3 linked regions of the Homo sapiens genome follow. The protein of the gene in region 1 interacts with the protein of each later gene in a pairwise test. Each region holds a gene or a part of one and is shown in the gene's direction. Other genes may lie near its edges.

Region 1 (3,500 bases):
AAATAATGGCAGGAAGTCACAGCAGCCCAGAAACAGCCCCTTCCAAAGGGCAGGCTGTGACCCCACGGCAACTTTGCAGGCACCTCCCTTGATTTCCTGTGGGTTCCTCAGGTAGCCCATCAGGCAAGAGCTGCCCCAGGACGGGTTTAACAGCAGGAAGATCTGGGTAGCTCAGATGGGCTCTGGATCACGCTGCTGGGCTGGAATCTTAGCTCCCGCAACCATAGGGGTAGCCCCTGAGCCAGTCCCTTCACCTCTCTGAACTTCAGTCTTCTTTCTTATCTGTGAAACAGGGATGATGGGAGTCAGTGCCTCCTGGTTTTTTGGAAGGATTCAGTTAGATAAGGTGTGATTCCTCGTCCCCCAGGGTGGACCGCATTGCCAGAAATGACATGAGGCCACCTTGCTTCTCAGGCCGTGCCTCATCCTTGACTCCTCTCCTCCTCTCACAGTCACAGCCAGTCCAGTGGCAAGGGCTGCCGACTGTGCCTTCCCAACATGGCTGTCCTGGGCCACTTCCTGGTTATCCTCACCTCCACCCTCATTCGAGCTGGTTAAAAGCTTACATCAGAGTCCATCCCTCTGCTGTTCAGACCTTCTGGTGCTTCTCTTCTGGCTCAGAGTAAAAGCCAAAGTCCTGGCTGGGCGCGGTGGCTCATGCCTGTAATCCCAGCACTTTGGGAGGCCAAGGCAGGTGGATCACTTGAGGTCAGGAGTTCGAGACCAGCCTGGCCAACATGGTGAAACCCCCCATCTCTACTAAAAATACAAAAATTAGCTGGGCGTGGTGGCACACACCTGTAATCCCATCTACTCAGGAGGCTGAGGTAGGAGGATTGCTTGAACCCAGAAGGCAGAGGTTGCAGTGACTCACCTGAAATCTTGCCACTGCACTCCAGCCTGGGTGACAGAGCAAGGCTCTGTCTCAAAAAAAATAAATAAATAAAAGCCAAGTCCTTAGCTCTGCCTCCCAGGTCCTCCCATGCGGACCTGGCTGGCTCGCTGCCCTCACCTTCTGCCTTGTTCTCTGGCCACACCAGCCTCCCTGTTGTTCATCAGCACCGCCAAACGCACTCCTGCCTCAGGGCCTTTGTACCTGCTTTCCCTGCTGCCCAGACCATCTCCCTGATGACCTGAGGTCTCTCCTCATGCATGGCCTCATCAGAGAGGCCTCTCCTGACCATCCTGTCAAAATAGCCCTGTCTTGTCTCTGGCAAAACAAAGCCACTGAAGAATGAGAGAGGCTATTTTCTCCCCTGGCCACCTCCCTAGAGGAGCTGCTCCCCTGAGGGGCCCAGCGGGGACCCTTGTGCCCTGGATGCCGACTCCTGGTGAGTGCTGGCTCTCCCTGTCTGTGTCTGCTGCAGGTGAGAAGCCCTACAAATGCTCAGTGTGCGAGTCTGCGTTCAACCGCAAGGACAAACTGAAGAGACACATGTTGATCCACGAGCCCTTCAAGAAATACAAATGCCCTTTCTCGTGAGTAGAGACTGCCATGCAGGGGGGTGGGTAGCGGGACAGATTCTCCAGGGGTGCTGCTGGGGAGGGTGGGACAGATGTCAGGCCTGAGGGCAGGCCTCTCCTTTTTTTTTTTTTTGGAGACATAGTCTCACTCTGTCATCCAGGCTGGAGTGCAGTGGTAAGATCTTGTCTCACTGCAACCTCTGCCTTCTGGGTTCAAGCGATTCTCTTGCCTCGGCTTCCCAAGTAGCTGAGATTACAGATTTAGTAGAGATGGAGTTTCGCCATGTTGCCTAGGCTGGTCTCGAGCTCCTGACCGCAAGTGATCCATCCACCTCGGCCTCCCAAAGTGCTGAGATTACAGGCGTGAGCCACTGTGCCTGGCCAGGCCTCTCTCCTTTTATCCTGTCCTGGGCCCTGCCTGCCTCACTTCCCACCCTACCTCCTTGCCCAGCCCTTAGGGTGGACAAGGCTGTCCCTTGTGCCCAGGGCTAGTGGAGGGGCCAGCAAGAGGATCCTAAGCTTGGTGAGCTCCCCCTGACCAGTGGCTTTGGGTTTTAGGACGCACACAGGCTGCAGTAAGGAGTTCAACCGGCCGGACAAGCTGAAGGCCCACATCCTCTCCCACTCTGGTAAGTGGCTCTTGGGCCTGCTAAGAGGGTCTGGTTCAGCTCTAGTTCACTGGGATAGACCCGCCAGGAAGAGAAAGAGCAGACATATCCTGTGAGGCTTGTTTTCCCTGCCTGGCACATTCCAGCCAGCACTTTCACTTATGTGGGCTATGAGCCAGGCCTGTGTTAGGGACTTAAGGGTGAACAGAGATGAATCAGACACAGTCCCCCAGTCCAAGGAGGAAGCTGACCTGAGCAGAGATGACTCAGTTGGAGCAGTGCCCAGTGTAATAGAGGTGTGGACGAGGTGTGGAGGGAATCAGATTCCAGCCAGGTCCAAGACATGGCCAGGAAGCTTCTTTGATAGGGCAGGGCAGGGGTCTCCAAGCCACTCCTCAGTTTCTCAGCGCCTCCTCAGAGCAGCCTGGCTGGCTTTCCACATGCCAGCCGAGGTCTAAAACAAGGTTCTTCAACCCTGGCACCATTGACAATTTGGGCCAGATAATTTTTTTTTTTTTTTTTTGAGACGGAGCCTCCCTCTGTCACCCAGGTGGAGTGCAGTGGTGTGATCTTGGCTCATTGCAACCTCTGCCTCCCAGGTTCAAGCGATTCTCTTGCCTCAGCTTCCCAAGTAGTTGGGATTACAGGTGCCTGCCACCACACCCAGCTAATTTTTGTATTTTTAGTAGACATGGGGTTTTCACCATGTTGGCTAGGCTGGTGTCGAACTCCTGACCTCAAGTGATCTGCCCGCCTTGGCCTCCCAAGGTGCTGGGATTACAGGTGTGAGCCACCGGCGCCTGGCCTGTAATCCTGTAGATAATTTTGTCCTGGGGGCTGTCCTGTGCCCTGTAGGATTTTTAGCAGTATCCCTGGCTTCTATCTACTGGTGTCAGTGGCATCCCCCCACAGTTGTGACAACCAAAAATGTCTCTAGGCATTGCTGAGTCCTCTGGGGGGTAAAGTCTCCCTTGTTTGAGAAGGTTTACAGAAAGGAGTCAGTCACTAAAGAAAGTGTGAAAACTGGGAGAGTAGGTCAATGACTTGGACACACAGGGCTGGGTTGGAGTCTTAGTGCTGCCATGTTCCTGTGGGTGGCCTCAGGCGTCACGGCCCCTCCCTGAGCCTGAGATGACCTGGCAAAGCGAGCCAAGGTGCAGAGAGTGAGCAGCTGTTCCAGGCAGAGGAGAATGGCAAGTACAAAGGCGCAGAGGGAGGAGCCAGCGTGGCATCTCTGAGGAGAGCGAGTGTGGCTGGCGCAGAGAGTGGCTGGAAGAAGGCAGACGACGAGGGTGGAGAGAGCTGGGGCCAGATCACACAGGTGCTGGTGGGGAAAGAGCCTGGATTTTATTCCCAGCGCAGGGCACTGTTGCGGGGTGAAGGTCTGGATGCTTCTCACTGACTTTCCCTTGCCCTCCAGGCATGAAG
Region 2 (3,500 bases), on another chromosome or scaffold:
TACACTTTGCAGGTTGAGGTGAGAAAAAGTATACACAAGCATTGGGTAAGTTAACCTGTTGAGGTGAAAGAACCTGTTGAAGGTGATAGGAAGTGATTGAGACTCATGTTAGTTTTTGATTTAAAGTGTAAGACTCCATCCGTGGCAGGGGTGGACCAGAGAAGACTTGGGGCTGCCATAAGGAATGATTTAGCAAGACTGGGAGATGGTAGGGCCTTTCAGGACACACATCTTTCCCTTACAGAAGGTGCCAGGGACTGGGCCAGCTGAAGAGCCAGAAAGAATGCTGGGAGTATAGAGAAGCCATTTCTTGCCACCAGACCTGGGACACTCCAGCAAAAGGAAGGAATTTTCCCTTCAGTTGACGCCTGATCCCAAATGTAGGGGTTTACATGACAAGCATTCTTTTTAAAATAAAAAATAAAAGGAGTAATGTATGATTATTTGACAAGCATTTAAAAAAATTTAATGAGGGCCTGGCATGGTGCCTCATGCCTGTAATCCTAGCACTTCAGAAGGCTGAGGCAGGAGGGTTGTTAGAGGCCAGGAGTTGGAGACCAGCCTGGGCAACATTTTTTAAATACAAATTTAAAAAATTAGCCAGGTGTGGTACCTCATGCATTGCGGTCCAGCTACTCAGGAGGCTTGAGCTTATAGTAAGCTATGATCTCACCACTGCACTCCAGCATGGGTGGTGGAGCAAGACCCTGTCTCTTAGAAATATATATTAAAAAATGAATAATATATTAAATTACTCCCACTCTCTTATTCCGTAGAGTTTATTGGGTATTTTTCGTTTTCTTTTTGTAGAGACAGGGTCTTGCCATGTTCCCCAGGCTGGTCTTGAACTCCATGAGCTCAAGTGATCCTCTTTTTTCTACAGTGGTTTTTGTTTTTTATGTAAATCACAGTATGCCATTCCTCTGCTGAAAGCTTCCCAGGGCTTTCCTTTTTAGGAATGAAATCTGAACTCCTCACCATAGTGTGTCTACGAGTGTGTATGTGATCTGGTTCCTGCCTGCCTCTTCAGCTTTATTCCAGTCTTCCTCTTGCTTACTACCCTCCAGCTGCGCTGGCCAAAAGAGTTGAACTTTTTAAGGAATTGACCAGTTAATAAGGAATCAGCCTCATGAGTGGCAAGACTCTGTCTTTGGCAGGAATTCCTCACTCCTCATTGTTAGGTTGGGAAAGCTCTGTGCTTTCCTGTGCCTTCCTTGCTCAGACATCCACGTACCTCTAAGGACTAGGTGATGGCTTTCAAACTTTTTATTGCATTCCACAGTAAGAAATACATTTTTAATCATAGCCTAGTAACAAATTTAACACAATAAAAGTTTTGAAATAGTATTTATCCTTACTACATTCTGTGTCACACACAAAATTAGCCAGAAACACTTGAGAAGACTGGATCTAGTTCGTGGGCTTATCTCTGAAGGCTCAGATTTGAATGTGGAGAGAAAGTAGTCTGGTTTGCTAAGCTGAGAAATTGCTCTCTCTGCTAATAATGGTGGTCACTAGAGCAAAGATATCTGAGCGGGCCCTTTAAAACAAGCAAGTATCCCTGTTTCTCAGTTTCTAAAGCAGGTCTGCAAATGAAGCCCTTACGGGGATAGGGAATGTTCTGGAGACCAATGCAATATAGAAAGAGGAAAACTTCTTTGGGGTATCTGATTGGAAATTAGTCACACAGAAGCTTTATTCAGCCAGCATGAGAGATGGAAACATTGCTGTATGAATTAGATTTGCCATCATTTTTCAAAACAGGGCAAAGGTGCTGTTTGTTTCTCTGCCTGTTTTCCTACACTGCAGCTGAACATCACTGTTACATAAAGCTGACTGCCTAGGCATCTCTAGGACAACACCTCAAGCTCTTGGCATCTTGCATTTTGCATCAGTGTCCCATCTGCTTCTCTAAGATTGAGCTGTAACACAGACAAGTGGATGTTTTGCTGCGGAATGAACACTTAGCAGGGTCTGCCTCTTCCTCCTGTGTTGTGACCCAATTCCTCAGCACAGGGAGTAAGGTCAGAAGTTGAAAAGGCCATGGTCATTCAGCTGGGTACTGGAGAACTCATGATTTTTTCTTTTAGATTAGGTCAGTGCTTCTCAAACCATTTTCCTGTCTAGCATACCTGCAGGGTAGGCTAAATTTGATAGTGTCTCTGGAGGTAGAGGCTGGTTGGGGAATGGATGTGGTAGACAGTTGGGGGAATGTGGTTTAAGAAGACCTCTAGATAATTCTGTTAAGGGAGAGATGGGAGCATTTTCCCCTTTCCCCTGCCAGTCTCATTATAATAGATGATTATTAAAAGCAGTTAATTTCTTTCTTTTCTAGCCCACACCAGTTATCCTATTGAAAGAGGGGACTGATAGCTCCCAAGGCATCCCCCAGCTTGTGAGTAACATCAGTGCCTGCCAGGTGATTGCTGAGGCTGTAAGAACTACCCTGGGTCCCCGTGGCATGGACAAGCTTATTGTAGATGGCAGAGGTAAGTCTACAGAGTTCCTCAGGCCTGTGTGCAGGAAAGGAGGCTCCTGAGGGGGTGTTTGGGACTAGCATAGGTTGGTATCAGAAATCCCACTGCTTTTAAGATCGTTGAAAGATGACTCACTCTGAAGCAGTTCCAATTCTTATATTGTCCTGACTGCTGAGCCCGTGTGGGACTATATGAGAGAACCTAGGCTCAGGAGCCTGTTGCCTCATAGGGAGACGTGGCCTAGAAACATGAAATAGAACCATCTGGAGTTTCCTGTGTTCACTTCCATTGTTATCAAGATGAGAAAATTCCTGTTTATATCTTGGTATATTAATTGATGTGTGAGGGTATCAACTGTGGTAAGAATATCTAAGTGGTTACTTTTATTTAAAAAATCTTTTCTGTATCCAGTTGACCTGTATTAATTGCTCTTCAAGGAAAATTGGGAGTCTGTGGTCTGCAAAAGCTTGTGATTTTAGACCCTTTGTGTACAGAGCTAATTCTGTATAGAAAGATCAGATAGGTATCCTTTCCCTTCAGCCCTGCCGTGATCCCCTCTGCCCCATCCCAGTAAAGTGTAGATGGGTTCTAGGTCCCACTTGAAGACAGCATTTAAGAAAGGGGCTTTAGATTTTTGTTTGTTTCTTTTAAGGCAAAGCAACAATTTCTAATGATGGGGCCACAATTCTGAAACTTCTTGATGTTGTCCATCCTGCAGCAAAGACTTTGGTAGACATTGCCAAATCCCAAGATGCTGAGGTAGGAAAATAGTTGTGTGTTTAAATGGAGGTTGAAACACATGCTTGCTTGCTCCTTAGTTCTCCTCTATTAAATTTTTTTAAGATTTTATATAATTATAATTGTACAAGTAATACATGCTTATAAAAGTATTTAGAATTAACAGCCTTTTAAAATTCATACTATTTCGTTACATGTAGCTTTTCATATCCATTAATACATTGGTGAATGACAACAGTCTTTAGATATAAGTCTACTGCCTGAGATCTTAACAGGTTGTGTGCT
Region 3 (3,500 bases), on another chromosome or scaffold:
TCAGCATTGAACAGTTAAGGTGTCTTAAAATGCAGTGTGCTGGCCGGGCTTGGTGGCTTACGCCTGTAATTGCGGCACTTTGGGAGGCTGAGGCTGGCAGATCTCCTGAGGTCGGGAGTTCGAGACCAGCCTGACCAACATGGAGAAACCCCGTCTCTACTAAAAATAAAAAATTAGCCGGGCATGGGGGTGCATGCCTGTAATCCCAGCTACTCGGGAGGCTGAGGCAGGAGAATCGCTTGAACCTGGGAGGCAGAGGTTGTGAGCTAAGATCGTGCCATCCTGCCTGGGCAATGAGCAAAACTCCATCTCAAAAAAAAAAAAAAAAAAAAATGCAGTTTGCTTTTAACAGAACCCACAACAATTACATAATCCGAAAAGATGTTTCACTATTAAGGTTATGTAAAATTCTCTTTCAGCGCATTATCTGATTATAGTATTATTTTATGAATAGATTTTATTACAGATGGATAATTTAAGAGTAAAATCAAATATTTTAATTTTGGAATTTGAAAAATAATGATTCAAGACAATATTATATTTATAAAATACATAAAATTTGACCCAGTGGAATAATTATTTAGACCTAGGATAAAATATCTTCTTTTAAAATTTTCTTAAAGTGGAGCCACAGGCAGCTAATTTGAAAGTACAGTGAAACTTCAGCCTTCTGTGAATGAGATACTGTGAACTTAGTATCCTGAGTTACAGAGAATTAAACAATACTTTTTTGTTTTTGTTTCAATTCCTGTTGCAAATTTGCCAAATTATTTTCTAGGGTTAATACATACTAAACATAATAGAATCTTTCTTTGATAAATTAGAACATTATAGTGTCCTAGGATCATCTTTCTGATTATCGGTGATACTGTTAGGGATATGAAGATTATAACATTAACAGTACCTGAGACATTTTTTGTGTATATATGTCAGATGGCTTGCATTTTTATCAGTTGTTGTATTCTAGAAAAAAATGAAGTGAAAAATTACTTCTGATTGAGATGTTAGTATACCCTACCCTTGTTTAGTTTTTAAGAATAATTTTTCAATTATGAATACTCATTAATTTTTGAAGGATTTAATGAGGTATGAACAAAACTGGTGGTTACCAAAACTATCCCTATTCTCATGAAAAAAAAAAAAGTTCTTTGAGTTGAAGACAGAAGTTTCTTGTTGTGTAAGGATCCTCTTGTTGCAGATGTCAACAATCTTGTCTGAAACATAGTTGGGCAAAAAGGGGAATTTACTGTCTCAGATAACCTAAACTCAGGATGCAAGGATGCAGTTGAAATCAAACACAACTGGAACCTGAGCTGAGAATGCCACCAAAACTCTCTTATCTCTCCTCCTCTCTCCCTTTCAGCTTCATTTTCTCCAAATGCAGACCAGCTTCTTTCTTCCATGTAGCCGGGACATAGATGCCAGCAAATTATAAGTATGAGCTAGGCACTATCCTAAACAATTTTGCATGTATATTCATTCATTTAATCCTCACAGCTTTTTATACCTATTTTACAAATGAGGAAACAGAGGTATAGAGAGGTTAAGTAGTAATCCAGGTTGCCTGTTTTTATAGCACAATACAGTATGATAGAGATGATAGAGTTGGATTTGCTAGGCACTAGCTAGCTGTGGTTACAAATGGTCTCATTTGTGTTTTGTTTTTGAATTTTTTGAACAGACTTAATTTTTTAAGAGCAGTTTTATATTGGTAGCAAAATTGAGCAGAAAGTACGAAGAGTTCCCATATGCTCCCTGCCTGTACACATGCATAACCTCCCTCAGTATGGACATTCTACACTAGCGTGGTACACTTGTTATGGTAGATGAACCTACATTGATGCATCATTATCACCCAAAGGCCATAGTTTACATTAGGGCTCACTCTTCGTGTTGTGTATTCTATGGTTCTTAACACTTGTTTTTTTTTTTTTTTTTTGAGACGGAGTCTAGCTTTGTCGCCAGGCTGGAGTGCAGTGATACAATCTCAGCTCACTACAACCTCTGCCTCCCAGGTTCAAGCAGTTCTTCTGCCTCAGCCTCCTGAGTAGCTGGGATTACAAGCACGTGCCACCATGCCCAGCTAACTTTTGTATTTTTTTTTTTTTTTTTAGTAGAGACAGGGTTTCACTATGTTACCCAGGATGGTCTCAATCTCCTGACCTCGTGATCCACCCGCCTCGGCCTCCCAAAGTGCTGGGATTACAGGCGTGAGCCACCGCGCCCGGCCTTAACGCTTGTTTTTGTTTCTTTGGGAGAGGGATGGAGTTTTGCTCTTGTTGCCCAGGCTGGAGTGCAATGGCGTGATTCTTGGCTCACTGCAACTTCGCCTCCTGGGTTCAAGCAATTCTCCTGCCTCAGCCTCCCTCCCGAGTACCTCTACAAGCACGTGCCACCACGCCCTGCTCATTTTTTGTATTTTTAGTAGAGACGGGATTTCACCATGTTGGCCAGGCTGGTCTTGAACTCCTGACCTCAGGTGATCTGTCTGCCTCGACGTCTCAAAGTACTGGGCTTACAGGTGTCAGCCACTGCACCCGGCGAGGTTCTTAACACTTGTAAGAGTAATGTGTGTCCGCCATTATGTTGTCATGTAGAATAGTTCCATGGCCTTAAAAATCTTTGTTCTGCCTGTTCATATGTCCTTCCCACCAATCCCTGATTTTTTTTACTGTCTCTTTAGTTTTGTTTTTTCCAGAGTATCTTATAGTTGGAATCATGCAGTATGTTGCCTTTTGGATTGGCTTCTTTGACTTAGTAATATTCATTTAAAGTTCCTCCATGTCTTTTCATGGCTTCATAGCTCGTTTCTTTTTAGTGCTGAATAATATTTTATTTTCTGGGTGTATCAAATCCATTCACCCACTGAAGGACGTCTTATTGCTTCCAAGTTTTGTTCATTTACTTTTCACAGTAGTTCTGCAAAGTGTATATGTTGAGCTGTTTACAGATTAGGAAACAGATTCAAGAGAGGTGAAGTAGTTTACTCAGGTTCACATCATTAGAAAGTTGGCATAGTTTATATTAGAACCTAAACTCTGACTCCCAAGCCCATAATCCTTATATGTACTTTGCTGTATACATGAATAGGTCAAAATACAATTTATTTTTTACTTATTTTTTACAATATAGTAGAAAAACTTTATTAGAGTTAACTATCAGTTCTTCCTTGTTACTAAAGGAACTAGGGGAGGATTCATTTTTAGCAGTTGCTCTAAGGCCACTTCTTTTAGTAACCTTTTTACTTGAAATAATAAAACTACATTTCCATAAAAGTCCTTCTCTTTGAAATTTTCTTTTATTCAGTCTATTCTTTTGCTTAGTATACATTAATAAGGTAAAATATACTTCTGGCTGAGTGCGGTGGCTTGTGCCTGTAAATCCCAGCACTTTGGGAGGCTGAGGTGGGAGGATCGCTTGAGCCTAGCAATTCCAGACCAGCCTGGGAAGCAGTGGGATCCCTGTCTCTACAAAAAAATAAAAGAATTAGCTGGGTGTGG

Evidence for each region. The genes of interacting proteins can lie anywhere in the genome.
Region 2: the proteins of ZNF341 (region 1) and CCT7 interact in binary tests that used the Homo sapiens proteins (3 or more experiments, as listed by UniProt).
Region 3: the proteins of ZNF341 (region 1) and ZDHHC17 interact in a two-hybrid assay, tested with the Homo sapiens proteins (one large-scale study listed by BioGRID and IntAct).

Annotation. Positions count from the first base shown.
Region 1 is NC_000020.11:33,787,496-33,790,995, forward strand, and holds part of ZNF341 (zinc finger protein 341), read left to right. Parts: exon of another isoform or gene 1-282; intron 283-1,367; coding exon 1,368-1,479; intron 1,480-2,022; coding exon 2,023-2,093; intron 2,094-3,492; coding exon 3,493-3,500. UniProt on the Homo sapiens protein: Transcriptional activator of STAT3 involved in the regulation of immune homeostasis. Also able to activate STAT1 transcription.
Region 2 is NC_000002.12:73,237,308-73,240,807, forward strand, and holds part of CCT7 (T-complex protein 1 subunit eta), read left to right. Parts: intron 1-2,335; coding exon 2,336-2,489; intron 2,490-3,129; coding exon 3,130-3,236; intron 3,237-3,500. UniProt on the Homo sapiens protein: Component of the chaperonin-containing T-complex (TRiC), a molecular chaperone complex that assists the folding of actin, tubulin and other proteins upon ATP hydrolysis.
Region 3 is NC_000012.12:76,770,615-76,774,114, forward strand, and holds part of ZDHHC17 (palmitoyltransferase ZDHHC17), read left to right. Parts: intron 1-3,500. UniProt on the Homo sapiens protein: Palmitoyltransferase that catalyzes the addition of palmitate onto various protein substrates and is involved in a variety of cellular processes.